7 linked regions of the Homo sapiens genome follow. The protein of the gene in region 2 purifies or fractionates together with the protein of the main gene of each other region. This does not show direct contact. Each region holds a gene or a part of one and is shown on either strand. Other genes may lie near its edges.

Region 1 (2,229 bases), on a different chromosome or scaffold from region 2:
CAGCCTGGGTGACAAGAACAAGACTCTATCTTAAAAAAAAAAAAAAAAAAAGGAAGAAAGTAAAAGAAAAATCAATCACAATACTAGGAGTTTCTCTCTTCCCTGGAAGGAGCAATATGGCACCTATTTTGATAACACAGAGAGAAGGCTGGAGCTGTGTGATGTCGGGAAGAGAGGTTCTACTGGGTGCCATGTGGAGCATGTAGATGAAACTGATGCCCAGAGAAAGCTGTAGAGATGAAGAGAAACTGAGCCATTGTTGACCACATTTGAGCCACTAGATCAATTCTCCCCTGAAGTAGGTCCTTTTAATTTATATGAGCTAATAAACCCCTTTCTTGTTTAAGCCAGTAGACTTTTGTGTCATTTGCAACCAGGAGCACTCCAACTGACAGAATCAACGAACATTAAATCCTATCCTCCTTTCCTGAAGACACCAGTGTAAACAGAACCTTGTCTTGGAGCACGACTGGTTGCGAGTAACAGAAACCCACCGAAGCTGGCACAAGTAAAGAAGTATTTATTACATGGGTCCAAGGTTATCTCCAAAACCCATAGGAGCATGAAGTAAAAGTGAAATTCATGCAGAACCATGATCAGATACTTAGAAAGCAATTAATAAATACCTGTTGATCTCAATGGAATGAACACTCAATTAACTGGAATTGATAACTGCACTGGGAGCCGAGATAACCCCCCCAGCCCTCAAGGAGCCATTTGAGCTCTCATTTCTGATTCTCCCTGAATATTAGCTTCATTCTTCTGCCCTGTTTGCTTGTCTCTTTGCCCACCACCTCGAATTGGCCACTGATATTTCTAAATCTGATTGTGACCTTAAGAGCTCCACCAACTGACAACTTTCTTAGCCTCTCCATTAAAGAAAGTTCTCGAGCAAAAGAATCTGATTGGCTCAGCTTAAGTCAGGTGACAACCACTAATCCAATCGGTAGTCATCTGCCAAAAGAGGAAGCATAAGTAGACTGGCAAGTCAAATGTATTTACCCCAAGATGGGAGCTCAAGTTAGCCCTGGGTGGGGGAGATAGAAGTCCCACTGCCACCACTCCCCACCTTACCTAGACACAGACCAACAACACTGAGTGTTAACTATTCCTTTATTAGGTGGTGAGGGGAGTGGGGGGCTGTACAATGCAGGGCTTGGGAATTCAGCTACACAGGGATTTTGACCAGAAGCCATATTACAAAAATAGCCTAAAAATACCTCTATTCTGCCATGAGGCTGGGCCAGAGGATTACCAGGAAGAGAAAGTACCACTCAGGCAGCTCCTCTTCTTGTAGTCCCACATTTACAGGGACACAAAGGAATGCATACATCTGCCCTGGCTCCCATTTCCCACCAGCAGCCCCCTAGTTCCCAAAGGGAGATGGCCAAGGGTGGGGCTGGGGCAGAGGGAGTTGGCAGTGGGCCCTTCCCCAGCAAGGCTATGGAACATGTCCCATCTGGAATGCAGTGAAGTGAGGGAGGTGGGGTGGGGAGGAGGCTCCCAACACTCCCCCGACCCCTGGCCCCAGTGGGTGCGCCCAAGGGTGCCTACTTGGTACATACCTGGGTCGTGTACTCGGTACACGGGATCCCAGTCATGCCTGTGTACTAGGTACACAGAATCCAGCTTGGCCGAATGGGCCCACAGACTCAGCCCCACGGGGGCACTGGGGGGTTCACAGGGGGAGGGAGCATCTCCATATATATATTTTGTAAAAAATAATAATAATAAGTTTGTTTAAATGAATTTGTTTCTATACAAAATGTAAAAAAAAAAAGAAAAATAAAAATAATAATAATTCATTCATGTCAGAGTGTAAGGAAATGAGAGGCCAGAAGGAGAGAGAAAGGAATGAGGGAAGAGAGAAGTGGGGAAGAAGGAGGTCCCAGACTCTTCACAAGACTGAGAGGGTGGGTGGTAGCCCCCACCCATTATAAATAAAGGAAGACTGAAGCCCTGGGCTGATGACCTATCTCGGTCACGCTGCAAGGCAAGGATGCAGGAGGGTTGGTGGAAAGAGAAGAGGATGAAAAAGACTAAAAGGAAGGAAGAGACAGAGAAAGAAAGGAGGCAGGACGGGGGTCTCTTTAGGCCCCCAAGATCTAAGAACTGACGAGCGTCTCAGGCCAACACTTGCCTCTTGGGGGTAACTTCCGGCTGGGGCCCCAGCTGGGTCTGGGCCTGAGCAAGGGAGCTGGGAACAGACAAGGGAAGTGGCTGGGCAGG
Region 2 (3,311 bases):
TCTACTTTGTCATTTTGGTGACACCCGGCATCTATGTATTTTACAGGGGCTGGGATTGGGCTGGTCTTACATGCGTTCATGCAGTCATTCAAGAAAAGAGGTTGTTCGCACTAGTTCTTTTTCAGGTAACAAAGAACAGCTCAGGAAGATTTTAATTTAACTAAAAGTACAACTTCCAAGAATAAAGGTGTTTTGTTTCTCATATTTCAAGAAAAGCAGGGACATCCATAAGGTTGCTTCATCTACATGAGGTGATGCTTTAAAAAAGGAAGACAGATAAATTAATTGGACTTTGGGGAATGGTGATAGTTTTTTTTTCCTAATGCCCTGATACAAAGGGCATTGGCCAAATTTCTGCAGGGCCTCAAGACTGAACTTGGCTCTCATAAGGGATTTGTCTCCAAGACTGAAGGTCTCAGGTGACAGGCTGCATGACCCTGAAAGACAACACAAGAAAACCAGCTCAGCCAGTGTCTGTCACCTGAGAGATAATGAAACCTTCACTTTTTAACAAGGTGGTAAAACTTCCCTTTTGCAAAGAATAGCATAACATTTTTGTATATGTCAATCAGCCTGTTTTGCACCAACTTGAAAGCAATGAACACAATCTCCATTCCAACGATGATATAAATGGAGAAGAACAGGAAGAAGTTAGGGTGTTCTAAAACAGTATCCCCAAACCCAATGGTGGTGAGTGTGACAAAGCAGAAATAGAAGGCATTCTCGAAATCCAACTGTGTCTCCCAGAAGGGGAGGATGGCAGCTGCACAGGAAATGTAGGCAAAAACAATAAGGGCAATGATGGGGAGGGGGATGTCCAACCTCTCCACCTGCTGTCCAACTTCATCCAGGTTGCTGATGATGGAGTATGAGAGTCTTCCCAACACCAGTTCGGGACACGAGTTACTCCTCTCCATGGCTTGTGGGGGCAGTTGCAGTGTGTTCTGTTTCTCTAGCGCATGAGATCTCTCAAACAGCTCCATGCTGCAGCTTGGGCGTGAAGGACATGTGCCAAGTTTGGGGCCTGGAAGCTCTTCAGCACTGATGATGATCTGAGGGACAGCTTCATCTGCGGGCTTGGGGTCCGGTTTTTTCTTGAAGAGAGATTTGGGGCACCACTTGGAGAGGAGGGGGCGGGTAAAGAAAGGGAATTTTCGGAACCGATTATAAGATGTAGATAAGATGGTTGCCAGGATGTCGCCTGTGTCCGTGAGAACGAGGAACATCAGGGGGATACCAAAGAGAGCATAGAGCATGCACAAGTACTTGCCAAGCCTGGTGACGGGGTAGATGTAGCCATAGCCTGAAAAAGAAGATGGAGCTTAGAGTTTGCATCTGGCCCCTTCCCTTTTTCCCCCCAAAAGCTTTAAAGAGACCTTCTGCCATCTCCCCTCCTTGGCATGACATTTTACACATTGTTTTTGAAAATACTCATCTCAAAGCATTCAGCCACTGGTCTGGCATTAGGCTTGCTTTGGTGGGAGGGAAAGGAGTGAAACAGCTTCCCTTTAGGATAAGGAGCAACTGATATCCAGGTCTTTGATTTGAAATGTCCTTGGCAGGGGACCAGCACAGGTTTGGGGTGAACAGATTGCCTTTGATTCTGTTCTGGCCATTTCTGAGCACCCCCCAAAGGAAGGGCTCAGCTGACCTGGAAGGACAGGATGAGTACAAGTGAGAGAGGATGGGTGGCTTTGTAATCATATCCAATGCCACCTTTATCCTCTGTGAAGGTGCTGGCTTTTAAGAAGCCACCCTTGGCTGGGCGTGGTGGTTCATGCCTGTAATTCCAGCACTTTGGGAGGCCAAGATGGGCGGGTCACCTGAGGTCAGGAGTTCAAGACCAGCCTGGCCAATATAGTGAAACCCTATCTCAACTAAAAATAGAAAAATTAGCTGGGCATGGTGTAGGGCGCCTGTAGTCCCAGCTTCTCAGGCGGTTGAGGCAGGAGAATCACTTGAAGCCGGGAGGTGGAGGTTGCAGTGAGCCAAGATTGTGCCATTGCACTCCAGCCTAGGGGACAAGAGTGAGACTCCATCTCAAAAAAAAAAAAAAGCTACCCTTGTCCTCCATAAGAGGACTGAGCTCTTTGTTTCTAAGAGGCACTTATTGTGTTCCCATGGTGTGCTCAGCAGTGTGCACAGTGTTAGGAAAAACAGAAAGATGGAAGATGAATAAAATACAATTGCCCTCAGAGCCATTTGTGGCTTAGCAGATTAGACAAACATGTTCCTAAATGACAGTGAAGCCATTAGCCTCCCAGCATCTAGGTTCTGACTGACCTTGCTTTGAATCCCAGCTCTGCTATTTATGATAATATTACTTGACTGCTCATATTTTCAGGTTTTTTTTATCTGTAAGATGGGGATGACAATACCTACTTTGCGTATTGACTAGCTGGGAGGATTACATGAGGCCCGTGCTTGACACACAGTGCGCGATTAATAACTGGTGGTGTCCTCACCCTCAAGACCTTAGCTGCCTAGTGAGCACTTCCTGTGGGCTGGGTGTCAGTCAGCCTTCATAGGGAGGTATTGTTATCACCATCCACAGGTGGGGAAACTGAAGCACAGAGAAACGAAGTAGCTTGGCCGTGAGCATACATGTGATACACAGTGGAGTTGGGGTCAAATCCACAGGACTCTCAGGTCCCCAACCAGTGCTGTCACCCTCAGGAGCATCCGGGGGCAGGACCATTCAATCAGAGACAACCAGGCAGCCAAGCAAAGGAAGGGATGCGCTGAGGTCTCCATCCCCGTCGGGAGCCCCTCCCCTCCCCTTGCACCTACAGAGGGGCAGGAGCAGACAGACCTCAAACCCCACAGCGCAGGTGGCTAGATCTTCTGGAGCGGGCAAGCATCAATTCGAGCAGAGGACAAAGCTTTTGTATTTAATGCCTGTGTTTAATTTTTGATGTCATAAAGGATGATTAATACAGAAAAACCCAGCCCAATTATGTAAATTAATCTGAAGGCAACTCCTCAGCTGGCTAAGCCCCAACTTCCTCCAGAAGTGCAGCTCCCTGTGGCAAACTTTGGCCTCAGGCTCTGCCCTCCAAGAGCAGGTGGGCATTCAGGTTGCCTACCCTCACCAGGGTCCCAAGTGTAGGGGAGGGAGCTGTGGCTCTCAAAGAGTCTCATCAGTTTGCATCCATTCCAGAGCACTCCATGCCACTCTGGCTGGTTCCACTAAGTACCATTTGATGGCAGCGTCAGTTAACTATGTGCATTCATTCATCCATTCATGCATGCATACATTCAGTATTGAGTGCTTACTGCATGCACTGTGGGCATAGTGCTGAGCAAAGTAG
Region 3 (3,500 bases), on a different chromosome or scaffold from region 2:
ATTTGTGTTCATTTTGCAATAGTTCTAGCCATCTGCAGAAAACTTAAGTTGCCCTATGTCTGACTCAATTTGCAAACACTTTCTAGAATTCTATAAACACTAGGGGAAAAAAAAACGGTACCCTTACATGCTTGTACTCTTTCTCTTTAGTTCAAAAATATTCATGTAATATAGTACTTTGGTTATATTTAGTCTGTTTTTTAAAGGAAAGAATATTCCTTGAGCACTCATCTATGCAAGGTGAAAGATAAAACTACAACAGAATATACTCTTACTTGCCTTTTGATTTTTAATAGTAGGGCTCACCAAAAAGTTAAATCATCTATTACTAGACTATGTTGATTTCAACTTTTTTTTTCTTCTTTTTCCTTTGTATTTAGAAATTTTAAGCATTTATTAATGCTCATATTGACTTTTCTTGGGGTTCTTATCAAGGTTCTGGTCTAGTATGTAGACTGTACACATCAGTCCCACCATAATGGTCGACCATGTGTAAAATTCCTAGTTCTGTCTGGTTAGTGCCTGGGCCTCCATGGACTGTCTTTTAATATTCTGATGATTATCTCTACATAGGCTGCCAGATACTTCCAAGAAAAAATCCGCCTATCTAGGCTTATGCATGTTATATAATACCACAGATATGATTAGGTTATACACACATTTAAAATGCTGAATAATGAATTATTTTAGATTTTCAAGGATGGGCTTTCTAGAGGCATTAGTCACTTGGCTTGAGTGTACCCAGATCCTCAAAGCATAATCCATTGAGCATACCTTTGACAGTGATCTGTGCTATTGCTTCAATGACACCCAGTGTTGACATAGCAACACAGGTGTAATTTGCTGACTGTCTTACATCATTCAGTTCTAGCACATTTCTTCCTATTGGCATATCATCTTCAGGTGTCAGATCTTCTGCCCCCAACATCCACTTTACATAAGGCATTGGTGACCCCACGGCCACACAGGTGATATTAACGCTTCCGCCTGGCATGATTTCATGATTAGTGGGTGGGATAGAGAATCTTGGTGGGACACGGCGAACTGGAACAAAACACAAGGGAAATGATAACATATACAAGGCAAGAAAAAGTGGATTATTAAACACATGACATGCACCGTACAGACACGATTCAACAATTGAAACATTGTGGATTGTCCAAAAACAAAACATAAAGAAAAACTGTGGATAATACAGACCATACAAGTATGGTGTGTGTATACACAGAATTATTTATTTAGTTTAGTCATTGATATCTTAGACACACTAATACAAAAGTTGATTCAGACCTACAAGGGCCCCACAAAAAACTATCTACAAACTAACAATACACAAACATCATGCATAAGATAAACACAAAAACATATACATGCAGGCATATAACAATGATTCTATGCAGGCATGTATATGCAGAAAAGGGGGCTGGAAGGTCACCAGCATGTTTAAGTTGAGTATCAAAACCAACTTCAGTGCTGTGCACTTCCAGTTGATGTGAATGTAGGTGTGGGACCACACTGTCACATCCCAGCCCTGGAAAACATCACCTAGAGTACACTGAAAGTGCACTTTATGTTTTCAGATTCATAGTGGATGCAGCCTCAAGACCTCACACTAACACTGGAACAAACACAGAAATGTATATACATATTGATTTACAGTCACAGAAGAAGAAACAGGCTAACACCAGTAGAGATACTGGATTGGGTCATGCAAGGCATGCACAAGATGGAATCTCAAGGCCCGTGCTAAGGATATTGAAAGAATGGCTGGAATCCAAGACAGCAATGACCGCAGAAGAAATAAGGGGGCAATAGAAATAAACGTGAAAGGGGGAGGTAAAGTATAACGATTGAAACACAGGGACTTAGGGGATGACAGGGTTGAAAGACAGAAGATTAAGCTCAAGTTGTTAAAGGTAAGGATTGCAAATTCAGAAAGGGAGCTGGGTGTTTCACATACAGGATTCCATTCAATTCATATCAAAGGTAAAACAACATAAATGACAACAAAATCTTTTAAAAGGCTTTTTATGCCCACATTCAAATTGAGGGACACTGGATCTAAAACATACAGCAGGACATGACATTAAGAGAAGAGATCATATTAAAGCAACATAACACAGAAAAATTACCAAGCAATTTCAGTTCAGTGTTCCTGCTTCAGATAATCTGCAGGTTTATGTGTGTTTAAGTAAATGTGTTTTGGATGTGATACAAGGAGAAAGTGAAAGATAAATTGGTTTCATCTGGGGCTTTTACTGGCAAAATGTCATACCATAAGAATTTGAGATCTAGAGGGTAATCTTTAGGGAGCACACCTTAAATACATTTAATAAAGATTTTTTAAAAATTATAAATAAACTGATAAGTAACCTCATAACCCCAAGAAGAAGATAAGTAATTCTGTCTGAAAACTTTTTGGCTGCTCTTAAGGTCGAGATAAACCTCCGCTTATTTGAGATGGCTCACTGCAATGGCCTCATGGGTGAATGACAGTCATAGGAGAAGAAGAGAAAGCTAAGCATGCCTCCTGCAGCCAATTCACAGAGGTTACACAAAGCAAGCAGGAGCCAGTGTAGACTCTGAGGTATCAAAGAACATATCAAGAAAAATGGAGGAGAGTTTAGTCTTCATGCTTGGGATTAGGGGAGAAACTAGAAAAAGTCATTCTATGGGCAGCAGGCATCCTTATAAGACAGAAATTAAAGGCAGGGTGGGAGATGGGGACAGTGGAGCAGGAAGGAAAGCAGGAACACTGACCAAGTTCACTGGACCTTACAGAGTTAAGTGTTACCAGTTACCATGCACCCAGGTACATTCTCTCCCACCATGCACCACAGTTAGATACCACCAGCAAGCACCAGAAGCCATGGCCAGGGCATTCTCTGCTAAAACATACCATTAACCAAAAGAAGAACACAATGCAGCTACATTCATTTCATTTGTATTCTTTGTTATTGGTTTAATTAATAGTTTTGTAAGGTGGGTAAAAAGTAAAAAACACACCAACCTTCTCGCAGCTCTGAGGGATGTAGGGGGTTTGATGCAGAACACAATGAAATGAGGAAAGGAGAAAAACAAGGGAAACACAGAGAGAGTAAAAAGGCCATATCAAGGCTTTCAACTGCTACTTGAACATCTTTATTCGCTCTAGTTCATCCTTCCTATCTCAGCTGGAAAAGTTAGCAATATCTCACAGACTAACATGGTATTAGAAACAATAGCTAGCATCATTTTGAAATTTTCCATGGAAGAAGGTACACATGCCTCATGCAGCAAGGGAGGTCACTATTGTGGAAAAAGGATCAAGGGACTTTCGAAGAATTTAGAGAAGAAATGACTTTCTTCATATTTCCCCACCCCAGACTCCATAAAAAAAGAAAGGAGAGAAAAACATCCCCAGGGAAACAAAATTACCTCTAACAAAAATTTCAAAATCAAGCTAGGTATTTTCTTAAGGGAACCCATCCTATTGTAACTTAAAGCCCTCTCAGTCTTTT
Region 4 (3,500 bases), on a different chromosome or scaffold from region 2:
AAATTACCAGAGGCAAACCTAAAAGTTTGTTTTGATTTTAATTCTTATACTTAAGGATCTTGAAAATGGTCAGTAAAAGGGTATATTCTACATAATAAAAGTCCTTTCTATTTGTACGTCCGTCAGTTTAAGGGTTATTTCTCTAATGTTTGATTGTGTTTTGCTCATTATTTGTATTACTGCATTCTAATCTGGCTTCCTGGAGTTAAATTACTACCCTATGAAGTTATGTCCCAGATTCATTGTCATTTCTGTTTAAGACAGGAAAATAAACTGACTTGGGTACCTTTACTTACCATTTTTGTTTTCAATGAACTACCATTATTTAACATACTAAATGGCACTGTAAGGAATCATAATTCAACAACAACAACAACAAAATGGAAAACTGATTTATATCAGTTTCTCAGGGGCCCATTTCTTATATTCACTTTTCATTTGTACATATGGTCACAAAACATATGCGAGTTATATAAACAAATTATATTATTATTTACAAAATAATTCCTTAAAGAATTATTTCAATTCAGCTGGACATGGTAGCCCAGGCCTATAATCCCAGCTACACAGGAGGCTGACGAGGGAGGATCACTGGAGACCAGGAGTTCAAGACTGGCCTGGGTAACATAGAAAGACCTCCACATCTAAAAAATAAATAAATAAATATATACATACATATATATATATATATATATATATATATATATATATATATATATGAATTAATTTTTAAAAACACTGGAAAATTAAATTCTCAAGTTATTTGATTACTCAAATCTTTTTTTTGAGACAGAGTCTTGCTCTGTTGCCCAGGCTGGAGTACAGTGGCATGATCTCTGCTCACCACAACCTCTGCCTCCCAGGTTCAAGTGATCCTTGGGCCTCAGCCTCCCAAGTAGCTGGGATCACAGGCATGTGCCACCATGCATGGCTGATTTTTGTATTTTTGGTAGAGACGGGGTTTCACCATGTTGGCCAGGCTGGTCTCAAACTCCTAGCTTCAAGAGATCTCTTATCTCAGCCTCCCAAAGTGCTGGGATTACAGGCATGAGCCACCACGCCCAGCCCAATTACTCAAATCTTAAAATTAAACATTCCATCAGAAGTCAGTGGCCAAAATTCTCCTTTACATACAGCATAGTCTACCCAAGTCAAATCCTCTTCAGATGTGAATTGGCCTAAAAAACTGTGATAAGCAAAGAACACAAGCACAAAATTCCATTTAAGAGATGCTTCGTGCCTAGAATCAGCTTTAGGGTAGAGAAATATTAATGACAGAATTAGTCAGCATTTGGTTTAGTGGTCTAAGTATGGCCTGACTGCAAGTTGGGCTAAATATATCAAAAAGTCTGTCCAATGTGTGGCCTAATAATTCACTGCCCCTTGAAATCCATGCTATCATATTTCTGTAGATTCATTAATGCTAAAATGATTCCAATAGACAGATTTTTATTTATAATTTCACCTAAAACAACCAAGCAATTTTTCAAAATCATTATAATATTGCTGCTGATGTTAATAAATATGAAATCTCTTACTTGTATGGGGTAATTCTTTTCCTCTTCACAGTAGTAGGTTGTGCTAATACAACAATTTTTCTTTTATTGTTCACTAATGAGACAGTAATTGCCATCAGAATCCTACTGGAAACATAGACTTTTAAATATAACAGGCCTAAAGACAGGTTTCACTGTATTTATAATGATTTTCAGATACATTTTGTTCTGCATGAATACAACAGCACCAAAATGTTTTCTTTTCTGTGGAAGATAAACTTCATATTATTTAGCAACGTGTGCATAGGAGAAACAAATTTAACCAGGCAGATCTCAGGTACCTCTTTCCAGCAACTAATGAAAGAACAATGAACAGAATGCTCCTTTTTACTTAAAGAAAAAAAAAATCCTGTTAACCTTTCATTAGAAATCCTTAAAAAAATGCTATTTTAAAGTTTTTAATGTTTGAATTAGAAATGTAACCATCGGACTCACTATGAGTTCCAATGTACCGCAATGCAAAACTGCACACTCCACTTCAAATACTGATTATATATAAAGAACATTTATAGAAAGATATTTTAATGTATTGTTGGCTGGCACCACTACCTTCAGAATTTATTTAGAATGTAAAGATTTCTAGAAATACATTTTAATTAATACTTTCTGGTGGTATATTTTGGTTGATGAACTGCACTTGGCAATTACCATCCTTTGGGACCTCAGGTACTCTTCGCCTCTTAAATATTGTAGGTGCTATTAATATTTACCACTCAACAGATGGATTAACAAGTCTGTTTCTCATTCTTAGATTATAATCTTTTCTAAAGCCCAAATAAAATGTGAAAGGAGAATAGTACCTTTCATGATGTCCTAAATCCAAAAGAAATTCATCTGCATGTCTTTGGAGTTCATTTCCTTCTAAGTTCTTTAATTTCTTCAATTCACTCTGTAGGAAAAACCAGAGCTCTTTAGCTCCATTTTCAATCCTCCTCCTCAGGATTTCATGATCCTTCCCCAGACCTGTAGTCAAAGAATAGAGAGTTGTAGCATTTCCAACATTTTGATAAAAGGAAACTTTCAATTATCTGTGCTAAAGCCCATATACTGAGGAGGGGAAAACACTGTATAATCACCTACCATTTCTGGTCTGTTTCTTGTAATTTTCAATCTGTTCTTTGGCCTTAACAAGCTGCTCTTCTAAAACGCGTACTCTTCCTATAGCTGGCCCCTGATCAATAGGGCCTTCTGGTATCCTGTAGTTTAGGGAAGATAATGTAAACATTTAGCTTTCAAACTGTGCAACAAAATACAAGCTCACTTTCTAAAACATTTATACTGTAAACTCCATAAGTTGTTGAACCATATAGCACAAAAGTAGTACCAAATGGAATTTTCTCTTCAAAGGTATAGGATTAACCAGTGAAATGGACAATGAAATGATAATAACGAAAAATAGAAAATATTAATCTACTTCAGAAATCTATGATCTTCTAGGAGTTAACAAACCTCTAGAGCTGTTTCCTAAAAATCTTTCATCCCCAGAGTACCATGATCAGTGGCAAAGAGGTCAATTATTCATTAGCATTGAGAGTAACAAAAGTGAAGGAAAAAGTAAAGAAAAGGCTTAAAGGGAATAACGAAGCATATCTGAACATGTGTCTAAGGACATGCTCAAACATCAAATATAATGTATTTCTAAATTAATTATAATATCAGACTATGTAAATCTGTCTTTCAATTCATGACATTAGACTACTAAGCATTGGTCTTATATAGAAAAAAGAAAGACAAGAGTAGAAGATAAAACATATTAGAAAAAAATTGGGCCAGGTGTAGCCACTCATGCCTATAATCCCAGCACTTTGGGAGGCCCAGGTAGGAGGATTACTTGAGCCCAGGAGTTCATGGCCAGCCTGGGCAACACAGCAATCCCCCATCATTACAAAAATGAAAACATTAGCTGGGCACATGGTGGTGTGTGCCTGCAGTCCCAGCTACTCA
Region 5 (3,500 bases), about 30 Mb from region 2:
TGTCTCTACAAAAAATACAAAAATTAGCCAGGTATAGTGGCATGCACCTGTAGTCTCAGCTATTCAGAAGGCTGAGGCAGGAGGCTGGCTTGAGGTTGCAGTGAGCGGAGATCGCAGCACTGCACTCCAGCCTGGGCAACAGAGCCAGGTGCTGTCTATGGAAATAAAAAAGGAAATTGTAATCAAACAATTAGCTTTTCAGAAATGATTTAGTTATAAATTCTACATATGAATACAGGACAGAATCTAGACAGTAGGTATTCCTCCAATATATTTACTGATGTGAACATACAGCGATGTGTACACCAGGCATGTTTCTCCTGGGGGAAATCGATGCTTTCATATGGCCCCTCCCTTCTTTGTCTCATGGGTCCCAAATTATATCTTACTTTGCACTGAAAATCAGATCCTTCATATTTCATACACCCTGAAGCTAATGTGGTTTCTCCCTGGTCATCTTCTTCTATGATGGCAAAGCAATGTCCATTAGTTCTAAAACAGAAAAAAACAAAACAAAACAAAACATAAATTCACATAGAAAGTACTAACGAAATTTGAGTCTGAATGTGAACAGGTACAGATGGCCTTTAATACTTTGTTTTGTGACTTAGAATTGCATTCACACGTGATTTATTGGCAACGCCAGAGGTTTTAAGACAAATGAAAGTTATGTCTGAGCCAAGATCTAAAAGGCCAGTGACAACCCTTTGTCAAGAAGAAAAGGATTTCAATTAAACAAGTCCTCCACATAGGAGTTATGTGACTTCTCTTTGCTAATCAGTCATGTGATCACAGAAAGCTGATTTATAAAATTTTATGTCATGTTTTGAAAACATACTTTAAAATAACTTTGTCTCTTTTTACCCATTTTTTCAGTACTTCCATATTGTATATGATAATAGATAAAAACAAACTTTTCTCTGAAACATACAAATAGGCTTAATGACCAAAAAAAAGGGGACTAAAAGGCACCTTTTACTGAATATGATGGGAAAACAGGGAGAGGACTTTTGAATAAATTTTCAATAAATTTACATACATATATAATGAAATTCTTATTTTAGTGTTAGCATCCTGGAGTTTCCCCTTAATATATTCATATAGACTTTAACAGGTATGGGAGAAATTTCTAAAAGCTTTTTCTGTACTCCTATTTATTGTTAATATCAGGAATTGTGCTGCTTCTACTTAGAAGAATTTTGCAGAATTCTTGGTTTTCTGTTAGGAGAAAATGTTAAGTGTGGGGCAGAATTCTGTTAAAATGGATGATTCAGTTTTACTCTGGGTTACTAAGCTACTAACAGACAGCCCATTACATCAGGCAGGTACTACAGACAAGAAGTTTAGCAAAACATTATTTGGTGACATAGCAGAGAGCAGTTCCCTGCTGGCAAACTCTCACCAAGGTAAAAATGAACAACTAGTCACAGTCAGCCACGCAGAGCCCACCACCACCAGGGGACAAGCAGCAAACCTAAGACACGATGACCGTCATGCAGGTTCAAGAGTTTACGTGTAAAGTTTCATGCTTTCTATCTGGTCCATTCAGGGAACATACAATTATTAAAAGTATAAAACATGACATTCATTATTGCCTCTATAACAAGGAGACAATTAATTGACTGATGAGGTTGAGTTGTTCAGGCAATTTTTTTTGGTCTTATTAAGTCAATATGTCAATGTTTCCAACAAATATGGACTAGAATTACATGATCATATATAAACATGTTGTGCAGCTAACACGAAATACACTAGAAAAATTAAAATCATTTTATAAATCAGATTTGGATTGGTAAATTCACAGGTAAGAAAAAAGCATAAAATTAATTAACACAATATGATTTATATATATCTGCAAAATATTTCAACTAATTAAGAAGTAGGAGGCCAGGTGTGGCAGCTCACCCTAGTAATCCCAGCACTTTGGGAGGCTGAGGTGGAAGGACTGCTTGAGCCCAGGAGTTTGAGACCAGCCTGGGCAACATAGCAAGATCCTGTCTATAGTTAAAAAAAAAATTTTTTTTTAAATTAAAAAGAAGTAGGAGGTTGTCAGTGAGTTTTCTGATTTCTTTTTTGGTAACCTCTAAGTTTTCTAAAATGAGCATCAATAAATTTAAGATTAAAAGATCATTAAAAACTCAGATGTTAAATACTAGATCCCTTTGATCTTATTTTAAAAGCTGCATTATAACATAATTCTAATATAGTAACTCACCTATCAATCATTTAATGGAATAATGTTCTAATATACAAAACAAAAGGCTTTTTGGCTTTCTGGAAAGATACTATATATGAATGAAAAAAAAACCGCAGACAAGTTTAATAATTCTTAAAATAGCACTAAATGCAACTCTATTCTCCTAACTCTTAAGAAGGGCTGCATAAAATACTTACATGCATGTGTTATTAATAGCATCATCTGGACAGTGCCCTGAGCAATAGCACTTTAAAAAAGGCAAGGTATCCTCTGGTGCTAAGGTTACTCCATTTTCTGACTTTTTCTGGTCGGAGTCTGATTTCATCCCAGTGCCATGAAGCATACTATCCAGATTCTGTCCTGCATTCAAATATGGAATTTGTAAGTAAATCATTTCTGAAAAGCTCATTGTTTCGTGACAATTTTCAATGAGAAAAAGTTGTTAAGCTTTCTTATCACAATAATTGTAGCTAGCATGTTTCTTTAGAAATATAAATTTCATTCATACAACAAACAGACATACATTATTATGCACAGAATTACTGCACCAGGTATTGCGGGGTACATGAAGACAGCTATATCACAATTTTTGCACTAGTGAAAGACAAACAAGAGTGGCGCAAGGCAGAATACAGTCAAATCTTGTTTTTTATATTTTTAAAATAACTTAAAAATTTTTTAATTTAACCAGGGAAAAGCATGAACGCAGTCCCCCACCACCACAATTATGCAGTTGAGTTTCCCACATTTGGGGAAATCGCAGGGGTCAGCACATCTGGAGTGCAATGAATAAGCCTCGCCCTGGGAAAACCACCTTCGTGACCGTGGTCTCTCCCCTGCCAGGTAAAAGTATATAGTCATCACTTGTAAGAAAGGTACAAAAGGGGGAGAGACTTCACAGAAGTCTGTGAGAGTTTCCAATCATTAAATAGAGACAAGTTATGATTCTTCTTTTAACTCTTTGGTTCAAAACTTGTGACCAGCTTTCCTTTATTTGTGCCTCTATGTGGAAAAGGAGTTACTAAGCATCTTGCTTTGGCCTTTAATTGCTTAAGTAAGGAAATCATGAGAGCATGGGGACCAATCATGTTATCTGGAGATTTTCACCTCGAGGTCATTGGTTTGAATGCAGACGATGCTGGCAGAAACTGAAGGTTATAGAAGGGCAGCAGTTAGCTCACAGAAATAGAACTATGTTCTTACACTAGAGTCTAGCAGCCTGCAGTGACAGATACTGTCATATTTGGTACTAAATCTTTCAGGCTGGAAGCAGAACGGAACTAAAAAAACTGTTCTAGTAATT
Region 6 (3,500 bases), on a different chromosome or scaffold from region 2:
CTACAATTTGCTGTAACTGTGTATCTTTCAGATTGTTCCCCACCATCATCTTCAATACCTGGAAGAGTTCCCCATTGGAAATATAGCCATCTTTATCCATGTCATAGATACGGAAAGCAACTAAAAAAAAGGAAGGAAAATCAATTCCAATTACAAAGCAATCACAAGTAAATGCTTTCAGTAAGAAAGAAAATAGTAAACTGACAAACATCAAAATTATGACTATGAGGATGTCTCCTTCCTTAAAATAGAGTTGTCCTTAGGCACAGTTTAACATAGTTGGTTAAACGTACGGGCTTTTGAGACTGCCTGAGCAGATTTGGTGGAGCTTAGAGTAGGTTAACTATCCCTGCTAAGCTTCAGTTTCTACACAGATAAAACTGGATATAGTAACAACTCCAACCTCTCCGGTTCTTTAGAACATTTCTTCCCACTTTCACTAAAAAAATCTCTTCTCTAAATTACATATGTAGTTTTACATGGCTGTTTTCAGCAGAAAGAAACTGTTTTCCTTCTATCCAACTAAAAGCAGCAATGACACATTATTCAAATATAGTAGTTGGAAATGTCCTAAAAGGATTTTCACCAGAATGTAAAATTTCAGTTATGTCTAAGGATCTGGAATAAAAGACATCTTTTTCATTATTTTAAAAAGCATTCTATAATACAGTATGAAATGATGGTAGTATAAGAGAATGAAGTCAGTGAAGAAAAATACTTACACCTCAATTTCTGCTCCTTATCTCCTTTGACACTGAACTGAGAGACGCCCTCAATGAATTCTGAATAAGAGTTAAAAATGTTCACAAATCAGAACTTCCAATTTTTTACACAAAAAACATATTTACCTTACATACCCACAAAAGGATATTTCCTTGCTGCAAAACAGAAGTACTACTAGCAACGTTTAAAAATAAAATTGCCAAATTTGAAACCTCAACAAACAAGGTCTCTCTGTATTTTTTTTATTTGAACTTGGAGTTCTCTAAGGTCAATCAATTTGAACAAACATTTGTTAAGTGCAAGATAAAAGAACACTCAAAACATATTATTTAAGTTGTTTAACTCTTCCCTCTTAGAATATGACTGTAACAAGGGGCTTTAAAAAAAAACCCACTATAAATTGTTCTGACACACACAAAAAACTTTAGCCTTCTGTTTCAAAATTGTGAATCAAATATGCTGTTAGAAGTTTCATGACAAATGATCATTTTTCTTCACTGCCTGATAAGCACTAAATCATAATCAGTTTTATATCCCTCCACTTATAATTGTCCAAACTAAAATAAAATCTATTGACAAATCCCTTGTGAAATGTTTATTTACTTGTTAAAACAAACAAAAAAAAAAACTGGCTTGGCGCGGTGGCTCATGCCTGTAATCCCAGCATTTTGGGAGGTTGAGGCACGTGGATCACTTGAGGTCAGGAGTTCGAGACCACAGCCTGGCCAACATGGTGAAATCTCGTTTTTACTAAAAATACAAAAATTAGCCAGGTGTGGTGGCACATGCCTGTAATCCCAGCTACTCAAGAGGCTGAGACAGGAGAATTGCTTGAACTCAGGAGGCGGAGGCTGCAGTGAGCCGAGATTATACCACCACATTCCAGCCTGGGCAAAAGAGCGAGACTCCATCTCAAAAAAATTAAATAAATAAATAAAAGGAATTGCAGCTTCTAATGTATATAAGAATATACAGTATTGCCCTAAAGTGAGATTAATTTTCTAAAAAGAAAGGAAATACTGAGTCCCCCCTGCTTTTTGGTAGATTATCCTAAAGAATGACTTAATCATTTATGAACCACAGAGTAAAATGTCCTAGTTCATTAAGGTGTATATGCCACAGACGCTGAGGTTTTAACATAATCTATTATTGTAAGGTCACTAGGAATATAAGCACTTTTTTTTTTTTTTTACACAGAGCTGTAAGAATACAAATAGGTTAGATAACTTGTGGTTATAAAAAATAACTACTTTCTTACCTTTAAAGTCTACTTCTCCATTCCCATCTGTGTCGAATATATCTATTACTCGCTGTACTAAAGGATTCTGTTGTAACTCAGGCAGAGACATGAACTCTTCCACACTCAAAGAACCAGAATTGTCCAAATCAAGCTTCTTAAATCTCTTTCCTAGCCTTTTAATTTCATCCGCATCAACTAAAAGCAAACAAAAAAGGAAGCAAGAATTTTTTAAAAATGTTCCCAAATCCTTTCTAATGGGCAGTAGCAAGATTTTAAAAAAAATTTTAATAGTTATAGGGGGGAAAAAAAATCTAACAGTTATCCAATAGTTTAATTTCCAATTTGATAAAAAGAGGTATATATTATGTTAACTAATTTATTCTAATAGAGTAAGTACAGCATAAATACTTGTATTTGGTTACCTTTCTGTTTGTTTGCACCTGCCATTACATACATCCGCTGTATGCTGAGTCTCAAGATATTCCAGGCCGGATAATGCTAAGCTGATCATGGAGGTCACAAAAGATTATTTCAGGACTGACAATGCTAAGCTGATCACGGAGGTTCTACCAGACAGGTTCAATCAACCTCTGTTCTGTAAACCGAAGTACTTTCATTTTCATTTTTCTTGTTAAATTTTAATTTACTTTATTTCTAATAGTTCATGACTCAAAAATTCAAAGGGTATTCAAAATTCAAAGTTTCCCTCCCTTCCCACCCCGAGATATCCATTTCCTTTCTCTGAAAGCAACGTTGCCAGTTTCCTAAATATTCTTCCAGAGATACTTTGCAAGTTTGAGCAAATAAGCCAGTTTTTACTTAACAACCAAATAGCTAACAAAATTCACTTATCAACACTTTAAAAGAGAAAGAATAACTAAAAAGAAATGTTTACATTAGTTTGTAAGTAATCCATAAAAATTCAGTGTCAGGTCTCTTATATAAATTCTTGAAACAACAGGTTTAAGCTATTTTCTTCTAAATTACATCATTTTCATTCCTTTAAAATATCTGACTAATACACATAAGTAATTTTGATCATGACTTTATAGAAATAATTACAAATATATTTTTTAAATTAAATACAACGGGCCAGGCGCAATGGCTCACGCTTGTAATCCCAGCACTTTGGGAGGCCAATGTGGGCAGATTACTAGAGGTCAGGAGTTACAGACCAGCCTGGCCAACATGGTAAAAACCCCACTTCTACTAAAAATACAAAAATAAGCCGGGCATGGTGGCACGCACCTCTAATCCCAGATACTCAGGAGGCTGAAGCAGGAGAATCGCTTGAACCCAGGAGGCGGAGGTTGCAGTAAGCTGAGATCACGCCACTGCTTTCCAGCCTGAGTGACAGAGTGAGACTCCATCTCAAAAAATTAAAAATAAAAATAAATTAAATACAACAACTTTTAAAAAGAAAATTAAGAAGGCAAATGTTATACTGCCCATGAGTATATATGTATTATGGCCCACAACACTAGAAAAGAGTACAAATACAAGCTGTTTTGACAGCTTAAATATATGGCATCCTCAC
Region 7 (4,151 bases), on a different chromosome or scaffold from region 2:
GAACCTGAAGGAGGACAGCTGTCCTGCTAGAGTTAAAAAAAAACAAAAACCTTCACCTCACCATATAGTGCCCAATACCAAGGAGTCAATACCAACCACATAGCAAAACTAAAACTAAAACTGAGCTCCCTCAAATTCTGATCTCTCACTTCACAAATAATAGTAGGGAAAACTTGGAGTTTCTCCCAGAACTTCATTTAGTATATCAGAGAAGGACTAGGAGAAAGGGGGCAGTTATTAAGAGAAAAGGTACACCAGAAAAAGCCCATCCAAACTGCCTCAGAAAGACACCGTCACTAAGCCCTGCTGACCCAACCCTAGATCTCAGAGTAAATTCCAGCAGTGAAATGCTAGCAAAGTGACAGCCACCTATGGTAACTGAACTGGAAAATGCAAAAACAAAAAAGAAACCAGAGAGGCAGGACCCTACAATACGGCAAGCATAAATCCCTTCTTAAAGGAAATCTGGTAAAAAACTAGGCCAGGCCACAACATACATCCAATAATGCTCAAGAATGTAGTGCAAGAAAGATCCCTGGCAATGTGGCCACTTTCTTCTAATCTCAGAAGAAACACTACTGCGAAGCAATTACAAACAAAATACAAGGGAAGGAAGCACACTCCAATACTAGATTACCACAAGATTATAAAATGCTGACAATCATTTGCAATCTAAGCTGATAGCTCTTTGAAGACTCCAAAACTAACTTTTCCAAACCATCTAACATTGGCAATCAGAGAAAACACTCATTTCCAATTAGCATGGGAGTGAGATAATGTAAACGCTCCTCTTGGCCAGGTGTGGTGGCTCACGCCTGTAATCCCAGCACTTTAGGAGGCCGAGGCCAGGAGTTGGAGACCAGCCTGGCCAACATGGGGAAACCCCATCTTTACTAAAAATACAAAAATTAGCTGGGCATGGTGGCACGCACCTGTGATCCCAGCTACTCGGGAGGCTGAGGCACGAGAATCACTTGAACCCAGGGAGGCGGAGGTTGCAGTGAGCCAAGATCATGCCACTGCACTCCAGCCTGGGCAACAGAGCGAGACTCCATCTCAAAAAAAAGAAAAGAAAAGAAAAAAGAAAAGAAAAGAAAAAAAACACTCCTCTTGCACAAAGATGGTAGTAGTTTGAACCAGCCCTAGATCCTTTGCTCAAATGAATTGACAAATCTGCAAGAACTACTCATTTCAGCTGTACAGGCTGCCAGCCACATTCAGCTTCAATTGCATTAAGCGTGCTCCTAGCCCTATGCCGTAGAAAGTCCACTGGACCAGGTGACCAGGCCCAACCTTGCCACTTAATCTGTGACAGCCTCAGGAAAGTTATACCATCTTTTTGAATCTTGGTTTCCTCATAGGAGGGATAAAAAGAAAAAAAAACTTGAATGAGATAGTTGCCAAGTTGTCTTGATAGTTGCCAAGTTGTCTTCAAATTCTAATATATGATTTAATACATAAGCCTCAAGACTTTTAATCCCTACAAGATTATTCTTTTTGCCCTCTTTTGGACTCTTCCTCTACTTATTACACACCTCACCCAACACTAAGCAAGTGCCTTTAATACCCACATAGCACTATTGTGGCCAGAACTAAAAGTGAAAGTTAAACAGTCTTTTTGAAATATACTTTCTTGTGAGTACAGGCGAAAGAGTAGAGAAAACCACGACTGCTTTTTTTTTTTTTTTTTTTTTGAGACAGAGTCCCACTCTGTCACCCAGGCTGGAGTGCAGTGGCGCAACCTCAGCTCACTGCGGCCTCCGCCTACCAGGTTCAAGCGATTCTCGTGCCTCAGCCTCCCCAGTAGCTGGGACTACAGGCCGCGCCACCACGCCCGGCTAATTTTTGTATTTTTAGTAGAGATGGGGTTTCACCATGTTGACATCTGGTTGAACGTTGGCCAGGCTGGTCTTGAACTCCTGACCTCAGGTGATCCGCCCGCCTCGGCCTCCCAAAGTGCTGGGATTACAGGCGTGAGCCACCGCGCCCAGCCCGACGACTGCTTTTTCAACAAGCTTCCAAAAAAGTGAAACCCTAAAGCACTTCTCTCCGTTACCCTGTCCCACAGTCTCCACCGAAAGCAGCCCAGACCTCAGGCCCATTAGTCTGCAGTGACCGCGGTCTCAGGAGACGGGCTCCTACCGTGGCGTCCGGGATCTGAAGTCTGCGTATAGTCCAGGGAGTTGGGCAGGCTCTGGCTGCGGCCATGACGCTGGGTCCGTTTCCATCGCTGGCTGTAAAGGAGGCACAGGAATCCAAGGCCGGCGGCGGTACCCAGCAACAGTCCCAGCCCGGCACGGGCACCACCCAGGGCTCCCAGTCTAGACATGCTGCACCTGCGGCCAGCAGAAGTCACCGGGAGCAGGCAGGCGGGCGGGCGGGCGGGGGTAAGGAGAGAGAGAGATTCGTGAACCCGGTAAACCCACCCTCAAGGCTGAACCCCGGCAGGTATCCCCTTGCCCAAACCCTGAGCTCTCGACTACGTGCACCCCAGTCTGAACCCTAAGGCTTCCTCCAGCCTCCTGGGCCCCACTGCCTCTCTTCTCACCCAGCCTGGACGTAGCCGCCCCTCCAGTACACCCCCCGACCCGGGTCACAGAGTCCGGCTTCTGGGCCTTCAACCCCCACCTCAGCCTCACGACACTGCAGACCACAAACCCGGCGCCCTGGCTGCAAACTCCTGGCCTTCCGCCGCGGCCCCCGAAGGCGCTCTGGCCTGGCAGGAGATCCACTCAGACCCTTACCCGGCCGCCAGCCACCATGGCAGCAGCCGCCGCGGGCTCACGCTGTCAGTGACCGTGACGTCAGGCAGGCGGCGCCAGGTGCTCGGCGCCCTGCGGGAAGGCGCAGAGAGATGACCGCGCCGGCCCCGCCCCTTGTCTGTTTCCCTCAGGGGCGGGGCCACGGGCGCCGCCGGAGGGGCGGAGTCAGCACAGAGCGCGAAAGGAAAGCAAGAAGGGGCCCAAGACAGGGGAAAGGCGGGAAGGCAGGGAGACTTCTTGGGCGGACGCTCGCGCAGTCACCCTCACCGTCCGGCAGCCAGGCCTCCATTTCCCTCCGGTCACACCGGCTTAACTTGCTGCTCCCGGAATACGCTCAGCATATTCACACTTTCTACCTGCGCTTCTGCCTGGACCTCCCCTCTGTACCTGGAAAACGTCACGCTCTCCCCACATTTTATTTTTATTTTTATTTTGTAGAGACTGGGTCCCGCTCTCCTGGTCTCTCAAAGTGCGATCCGCCCGCCTCGGGCTCCCAAAGTGCGTGAGCCGCCGCACCCGGCCATAAATCTTAAACCTAACGTGCTGTCTTATAATTCTGTTTTACTCTTGTAATTGTATGCAACTTCTTATAATTGTGGCAACTAAAAAGACCGATTTTATGGACTATGATAACAATTTTATTGTGAACATTTCTTAAGAGTTAAAATTTAGTTTAGTGAAAGAAATATCTAGGCCAGTCCTCCCAATACCCTTGACTAGATCTTATATTTATTTACCCTTTAATTGTGAGATATTGTATACATATAAGAATACAGGAGGCCGGCCGTGGTGGCACGTGACTGTAGTCACAGATACTCTGGGGGCTGAGATGGGAGGATCACTTGAGCCCAGGTCGTCGAGGCTGCAGTGAGCCATGATCACTCTGGGCAACAGAAGTCAGGATATCGAGGCCACCCAGGCCAACCTGGCGAAACTCCGTCTCTACTAAAAGTACAAAAATTAGCTGGGCATGGTGGTGCACGCCTGTAATCCCAGCTACTCGGGAGGCTGAGGCAGGAGAATTGCTTGAACCCAGGAGGCAGAGGTTGCAGTGAGCCGAGATCTCGCCACTGTACTCCAGCTTGGGCAACAGAGTGAGGCCTCCTCTCAAAACAAATAAACAAAAACAACAACAACAAAAAATATATTTATATATATATAAAGTATATATATATATATACACTTTATTTTGGAGGAAATAAAAATTTCCTCTGGAAACCTTCCCAGATCACCACCTTGGTGAAATTAAGCTTTTCACCCTGCTTTGCTCCTGTGGCTCTATTGCCTCCATTATACTTTTTTTTTTTTTTTAGACGGAGTTTCGCTCTTTTCGCCCATGCTGGAATGCAGTGGTGCGATCTCGGCTCACTGCAACCTCCTCCCCCGCCC

The links.
Region 1: the proteins of KCNK18 (region 2) and NOTCH3 purify together in Homo sapiens (affinity purification with mass spectrometry; one large-scale study listed by BioGRID and IntAct). This does not show direct contact.
Region 3: the proteins of KCNK18 (region 2) and PTPRD purify together in Homo sapiens (affinity purification with mass spectrometry; one large-scale study listed by BioGRID and IntAct). This does not show direct contact.
Region 4: the proteins of KCNK18 (region 2) and FUT8 purify together in Homo sapiens (affinity purification with mass spectrometry; one large-scale study listed by BioGRID and IntAct). This does not show direct contact.
Region 5: the proteins of KCNK18 (region 2) and BMPR1A purify together in Homo sapiens (affinity purification with mass spectrometry; one large-scale study listed by BioGRID and IntAct). This does not show direct contact.
Region 6: the proteins of KCNK18 (region 2) and PPP3R1 purify together in Homo sapiens (affinity purification with mass spectrometry; one large-scale study listed by BioGRID and IntAct). This does not show direct contact.
Region 7: the proteins of KCNK18 (region 2) and RMDN3 purify together in Homo sapiens (affinity purification with mass spectrometry; one large-scale study listed by BioGRID and IntAct). This does not show direct contact.

What each region holds. Positions count from the first base shown.
Region 1 is NC_000019.10:15,158,538-15,160,766, forward strand, and holds the end of NOTCH3 (neurogenic locus notch homolog protein 3 precursor), read right to left. Parts: coding exon 2,125-2,229; 3' UTR 501-2,124; downstream 1-500. UniProt on the Homo sapiens protein: Functions as a receptor for membrane-bound ligands Jagged1, Jagged2 and Delta1 to regulate cell-fate determination.
Region 2 is NC_000010.11:117,207,489-117,210,799, reverse strand, and holds the end of KCNK18 (potassium channel subfamily K member 18), read right to left. Parts: intron 1,304-3,311; coding exon 501-1,303; downstream 1-500. UniProt on the Homo sapiens protein: K(+) channel that conducts outward and inward rectifying currents at depolarized and hyperpolarized membrane potentials, respectively.
Region 3 is NC_000009.12:8,520,503-8,524,002, forward strand, and holds part of PTPRD (receptor-type tyrosine-protein phosphatase delta isoform 1 precursor), read right to left. Parts: intron 3,023-3,500; coding exon 3,011-3,022; intron 1,045-3,010; coding exon 775-1,044; intron 1-774.
Region 4 is NC_000014.9:65,615,230-65,618,729, reverse strand, and holds part of FUT8 (alpha-(1,6)-fucosyltransferase), read right to left. Parts: intron 2,753-3,500; coding exon 2,637-2,752; intron 2,520-2,636; coding exon 2,357-2,519; intron 1,641-2,356; coding exon of another isoform or gene 1,539-1,640; intron 1-1,538. UniProt on the Homo sapiens protein: Catalyzes the addition of fucose in alpha 1-6 linkage to the first GlcNAc residue, next to the peptide chains in N-glycans.
Region 5 is NC_000010.11:86,889,119-86,892,618, reverse strand, and holds part of BMPR1A (bone morphogenetic protein receptor type-1A isoform 3 precursor), read right to left. Parts: intron 2,558-3,500; coding exon 2,395-2,557; intron 493-2,394; coding exon 390-492; intron 1-389. UniProt on the Homo sapiens protein: On ligand binding, forms a receptor complex consisting of two type II and two type I transmembrane serine/threonine kinases.
Region 6 is NC_000002.12:68,186,533-68,190,032, forward strand, and holds part of PPP3R1 (calcineurin subunit B type 1), read right to left. Parts: intron 2,159-3,500; coding exon 1,982-2,158; intron 783-1,981; coding exon 723-782; intron 121-722; coding exon 1-120. UniProt on the Homo sapiens protein: Regulatory subunit of calcineurin, a calcium-dependent, calmodulin stimulated protein phosphatase. Confers calcium sensitivity.
Region 7 is NC_000015.10:40,752,455-40,756,605, forward strand, and holds the start of RMDN3 (regulator of microtubule dynamics protein 3), read right to left. Parts: upstream 2,801-4,151; 5' UTR 2,629-2,800; intron 2,337-2,628; 5' UTR 2,330-2,336; coding exon 2,143-2,329; intron 1-2,142.